2 separate regions of the Homo sapiens genome follow, and region 2 is linked to region 1. A link means that fine-mapping ties the variant in region 1 to the expression of a gene that starts in the linked region. Tissue or cell type: gastroesophageal junction. Region 1 holds a variant in brackets; the other region holds the start of a gene. All regions are shown on one strand. Distances are from middle to middle.

Evidence for each region. PIP is the estimated chance that this variant, and not a neighbour inherited with it, causes the effect.
Region 2: it holds the start of VIRMA, and the variant in region 1 is fine-mapped to the expression of VIRMA in gastroesophageal junction (GTEx, PIP 0.98).

The regions. Positions count from the first base shown.
Region 1 is chr8:93,619,516-93,622,200 of GRCh38, reverse strand. The region is part of intron 5 of CIBAR1-DT (CIBAR1 divergent transcript); the gene reads left to right. Among named protein-coding and RNA genes, the nearest start is that of CIBAR1-DT, 80 kb to the left of the region's middle. The variant T/C (reference allele first, on the strand shown) is at 1,034.
Region 2 is chr8:94,552,219-94,554,903 of GRCh38, reverse strand. It overlaps VIRMA (vir like m6A methyltransferase associated), which reads left to right and starts at 1,435. Exons shown (of 24, transcript NM_015496.5): 1 at 1,435-1,519. The coding sequence starts at 1,457. It overlaps VIRMA-DT (VIRMA divergent transcript), which reads right to left and starts at 1,191. Exons shown (of 2, transcript NR_183271.1): 1 at 997-1,191. RefSeq lists an enhancer at 1,122-1,741.

The DNA of each region.
Region 1 (2,685 bases):
AGAACCTAATTCTTGGGACACTTCTCAACCAAAGAGTACTAAAGCTCTTGAGATAATGTGGCTGTTTAAGGATGCTGTTGGCTTTACAGACTTACGGTGATATATTGTGGGACTCTGTTAGGTAATAGAATTGGTTACTAGTTTTTGGAGGGCATTCCATTTAAATTTGGAATCTCCAAATTAAAAGTGGTGTCCCCTCCTCACTGTTCACTATAAAATAAATAAGTCTCCAGTGATTTCCTTTGCCAGAGCCTACAGAGGCAGGGAGCCCATCAATGAATGCATTGTTTCTTGTGGATGAAGGGCTTGTGGAAACTGGATGCTATTTTATAGTAATTTTTTGAACAGTTCAATAAAATTACCCTACAATGTATACTTGGAAGTGACAAAGAAAATGTTTTAGGAGCATATAATAGAATCAGTCACTTCATTAATTCTAATATGAGTGTGCAAAAAGATTATTCAATGCCTCAGCCTATAGCTTCTGCAGGATATACCCATGGCAGAGTCTCAATAGATTCTGACAGACACTGATGTAAATGAAGGAGGCAATTTTGCATGCCGATCCCCCCACCAGGGACTTGAGAAAATTGCTTTTTTTTGGGATCTGGAAAGGAGATGCCAGGCTTGGAAGTGCCAAGGTGAGCTCAGAACATCATCCTAGACAAGTTTCTAGATTGTTGTGATTAATATGCCCCTCACATTTTTTTTTCAAAAACACCTCTAAAGACCTACCTATAAGGGATTTATGTAAATAACATGGGGAGGGTTCTTAAAAATATGCCTAATAAATTGTCTTCTAACTCACAATATCCTAGATTGATGAAGTCCATAAGACCTTTCAAGTGACTGTCAGAACCTTTTAGAAATAGCTAGACTCATAGTTTTTGCTTTGGGATTTTACGGATATTTTCATGAATGTTTGTGATTAATTTCATTTTTTTCCATCTTTTTAAAAAGAGTGTATGTTTGTGTTTTTATTTAGAGAAATAGCCAAAGATTTTATTGAGAGAGTACAAGATGGCTTAGGTTT[T/C]AGCTCAGCTTTGACCTGACCTTCTTGTGGCCATGGGCAAGTCAGTTGACTTCCCTGATCCTCAGTTGCTTCATTCTTAAAATGAGAATGCTGACATAGGTGCTTAGATTTGTATGAATACATAAAAATACATTATGCTTTTTGCATGTAAATATGCTTTCAATGTACATAGACTGTTGCATATCTTTTCCATTCATCACTATGAAGTGGTTACTTATGAGTGTGGATCAGAGATGAAGGGGAAATATAATATAGGAGAGGGAGCACTGTGTTCACTTATGACAACAGAGTGCTGTGGGCCCAGGAGTGTTACTAGCTCAACTCTCTTTACTCAGGCCCCGCCCCCCCTTTTTTTGAGAAAGGGTCTCCATCTTTGACCTGGGCTGGAGTGCAGTGGTGTGATCATGGGTCACTGCAGCCTCGACCTTCTGGGCTCAAGTGATCCTTCCACCTCAGCACTGCAGACGTGCACCACCATGCCAGCTAATTTATTTATTTATTTATTTGTAGAGGTGGAGTCTCACTGTGTTGCCCTGGCTGGGCCCAAAATTTTTAAAAAAATGAAGAAACAAAAAAAGAGAGCTGGACAAAACAAGTGGTTCCCAATCTTTTAAATCTCACCAACTAGTCACACGCAAGAGCAATGTTTGAGAATTGACAAATTGTATTTAGTAAGGACATAAACAATTTAGTGTATTACCTTCATTTTATACATAAAATGACATTCAAATACATAAAATATGAGAAGCATATATTATCAGAAAAAAGACAGTCCTTTGAATTCAAAGTTTACCTTCTGGAAAACTCATCACATTGTCCTTATTTTTCTTGCTTTTTCTTGGGCTAATAAAAAGAGTTATTTTATATGGTCATGGGTCCTAGGACTGGCATTTGGAAACCAATGAGTCTTTTCCAGAATTACATTCTATGAGTCTTGTTTGTATTTTCTGGGAGAGAGCAATTGGGCGATGCTCTCCTAGGCTTGTGTAAAATCCTGAGGCTAATGTCTAGGCTGTTATTAATCCAGGGTGGGGAGGGGAAGAAACACTCTGTGTTTGTTGTCTTCTAGGGAGACTAGCTGAGCTTCTCATTGTTTGCGGAGGGAATGCGTGTATGAGCACATGTGTCTTTGGACACAGTGGGGAGCACTGAGATGGAACCTTTGTAACCCTGCTGGTATTATCATCTTTAGATCGAGTTTTACAATTAGAATGGTATGAATAACATAAATAAACTGATGGTGATTTACCTTGCCTTTTTATTTCATTTCCTGGAGTTTTATGACTTGAATTTTGTGAAAATCTCTATTATCGGTCGGCGGGTAGCCCAGCCATCTAAAATTATATGTTGATTGTCTGAGAAATAATTTTTCCCCAAGGAAGACTAACATTGACATAGCACTGATTTAATTGTTAAACCATTCTGCTTATTTTCCCATAGCTTTGTGACCATGGGTAGGTAGCCTTTCTGTGTTCTGAGGGCACTCAATAACATTGAACTAGTAGTATGTCTGTGTGAATCAGGCTACACTTGAGTGTGAAAGCCTGCTGGATGGGGCTCAGTTTTCTCCCTTGTATCTGGAAGGATGATAACAACCAGGCAGTTTTCTCCTGGCGGCATGGATAAGAGCCTTCTTCTGCCCCATCAGGATT
Region 2 (2,685 bases), 930 kb before region 1:
TGAAGCCTTTCTGTTCTTCTCCATTACATCTCCTTCCAGTTTACCACTATCTTGAAATTTTAGTTACTCCAATACATGACTTTATAATTTCATGACATATGTACACTCCTAAAATTTTATATTCTTTTGCACGTTTTTAAATATATAGATGTTATTTTACACTATATATTTTTTATTTCCTTTTCTAAGAGATGGGTGTCCCCACTGGCCTCCAACTCCTGGGCTTAAGAGATTCTCCTGTCTCAGCTTCCCGAGAAGTTGGGACCACAGGAACACGCCACCGCACCCGGCTTGCGATGAGAGGAGTTAAACTTGTTTTGTTTTGGTTTGTGTCTTTTTTTTTTCTTTTTGTGAATAACGGGGTCTCGCTATATTGCCCAGGCAGTTCTCCAACTCCTGGGCTCAAGCGATCCTCCCGCTTCATCCTCCCTAAGTGCTGGATTACAGGCGTGAGCCAAAGCGCCCACCAACCCTGTTTTTTGGGTTTTTCATGCTAGTAAACATAGCACTGGTTCATTCTTCGTACCTGCTATATACTATTATATAAATACGCCACTATTTACTTATTACTTCTGTCAATGGCACTTATGTTTCCTGCTCTTTTGCAACTTATAAAGTTTGCTATGAATATTCTTGTATTTGTAGATACGTGGGCGAGAATTTTCCTAGAAGAGTGGTAGGCACGTGTAATTTTACAAGCTATTTCCTAGTTGCTCTGCTAAGGGTTTGTGCCATTTAGACTACCAAACCCGCTGAGTTTATCTCGTTGCTCCAAAGCTCATCAACACCCGACAGAGAGGCTTACTTTTCATTCTGCCTCCTGTTTTATTGTTCATGGTACTTCACGTTACACAATTCCTCGAATTTTATTTCAATTACTCCTCACAATCACCCTGTAGGTTAGGTACGATTTTTCACATTTTACAGATAAGAAAACAAAGAATCTCTTCGTTGGTTGAAACAACAGTTTTTCTTCTATTTAAATCAATGTCTTACTTTTCAACCTCGCTCACTGTTATCTTTTTGCTCCCAGCGCTGGAAAAAGTGGGACATCCCCTTCGGTGGGTGTACGGGGTTGGTATCCAAAGTTGGCAGCTTTCCCTCCCCCTCCTCCATCCACCGTCTCCAAAACCCCGTCTCCGCACTTCGCCACCCGGAGACCGCTGTAGCTCTGTAACGCGGAGGAACGACAGGGTTTGAACCACTGGAGACCCCGTAGTCCCCATCTCACTTCCCTCTGCCCCCCCTCTGCGTTCTAGGGGGCGCCCTCCGCCGCGCTGGAAAAGGCGGGGCCGGCAACTCCGGGCAACAAGATGCGTTGGGATAGGCCGAGGTTTGCGGCGCTAGTGCTCTGGTCACCGGAAGTCCCTCTGTTTCTCCCTCTCCTGAGTCGCTGTCGCGGAGGCTGGAGCGCTGCCCCGGAAGTCCTCCCCCCTGTTCCCCGCCCGCGGCAAACATGGCGGTGGACTCGGCGATGGAGCTGTTATTTTTAGATACTTTTAAACACCCGAGCGCTGAGGTAAGGCTTGGCGACTTGATTCTGACGCTGCTTCTTGACTTGGGATCTTTACAAAAAAACCGTTAGGCGTTCTCCACTTTTCCTTCTGCAGATTGCTTCTTTAATTTCTCGCTTACACACAGACACCCTCCCCCGAGCTGTGTGAGCATCGCGTCTGAGGGAGGGCTGCAGCAGCCCCTTCATTTCCTTGCTTTAACTTGGGCCCTCCGTGTCTTTGGTCGAGTTGGCTTTTCTGCTTGCATGGCTTTATTTTTTATTTTTCCTGTCAGGTTTGGGCCTTGAGAAGGATCAGGGTTCTCAGGTTTACCTCAGATGGCGTTTGGGAGGGGTCTTGGTTTGCCAGTAGTGTTTGACAGTAGTGCCGGAGTCTGAGCAGTTTACGTTGGCTTCGTGGTTTCCGAATCACGATGTTTCTAAATCCTTTCTCTTTGGCCTCTTTTCTGTCGGGAATTATGTTCCCCAGTTGTGACACTTACTTGGTTTAGGATTACGGTGCTCTCCGATTTGGCCTGAAACTTTAATACTTGTCTCTCGGAGAGATTTCACACATTAGGAATGAGATGCATTCACGGAGAATACTTGCGAAGAGGGGAGAGTTGAGAGAATTATAGTTAAACTCATCAGCAGACATCTCCTTTGAGGTTGGAGGTGGAATGTTGTGGAGTAATATTTCTGTACAAAACTACTTGAGCGCCCCTTAATGTACAATTGGCCCTGCAATATGTAGATTAAACATAGCTGGTTAACTAAAGATTCCTGAAAGCAGACCAAAAATGAACTTGAATGAAGTCTACGGAGAAATTGTTAAAAAAAAAAACGAACTTCACATTTTTCTGTCTTAATGTAAGCTTAATTTAGAGAACTGTTCTTTCTTTGGAGATTATTTTTTTCCTTTTATTTTTATCAAGTGTGCTCTTGTATCAAGCTTTTTGAGGACAGATATAATTTCTCTTTTTCTCAGCTGTATCTCCAGTGCCTAGGACAGTATTAGCAAAATGTAGGTGCTCAATAAATATTTGAATGGAAAATGTTTAAAATGTTCTTTCTTTTATGAGATAGTAATGATAGTGGGTAGTGATTGTATCATAATGCTTTACTTGGCAAAATAAAAAGTTGACAGCTGTGATCTAATTTAACGAATGGTTTATAGGTTTGTAAAAGTCAAA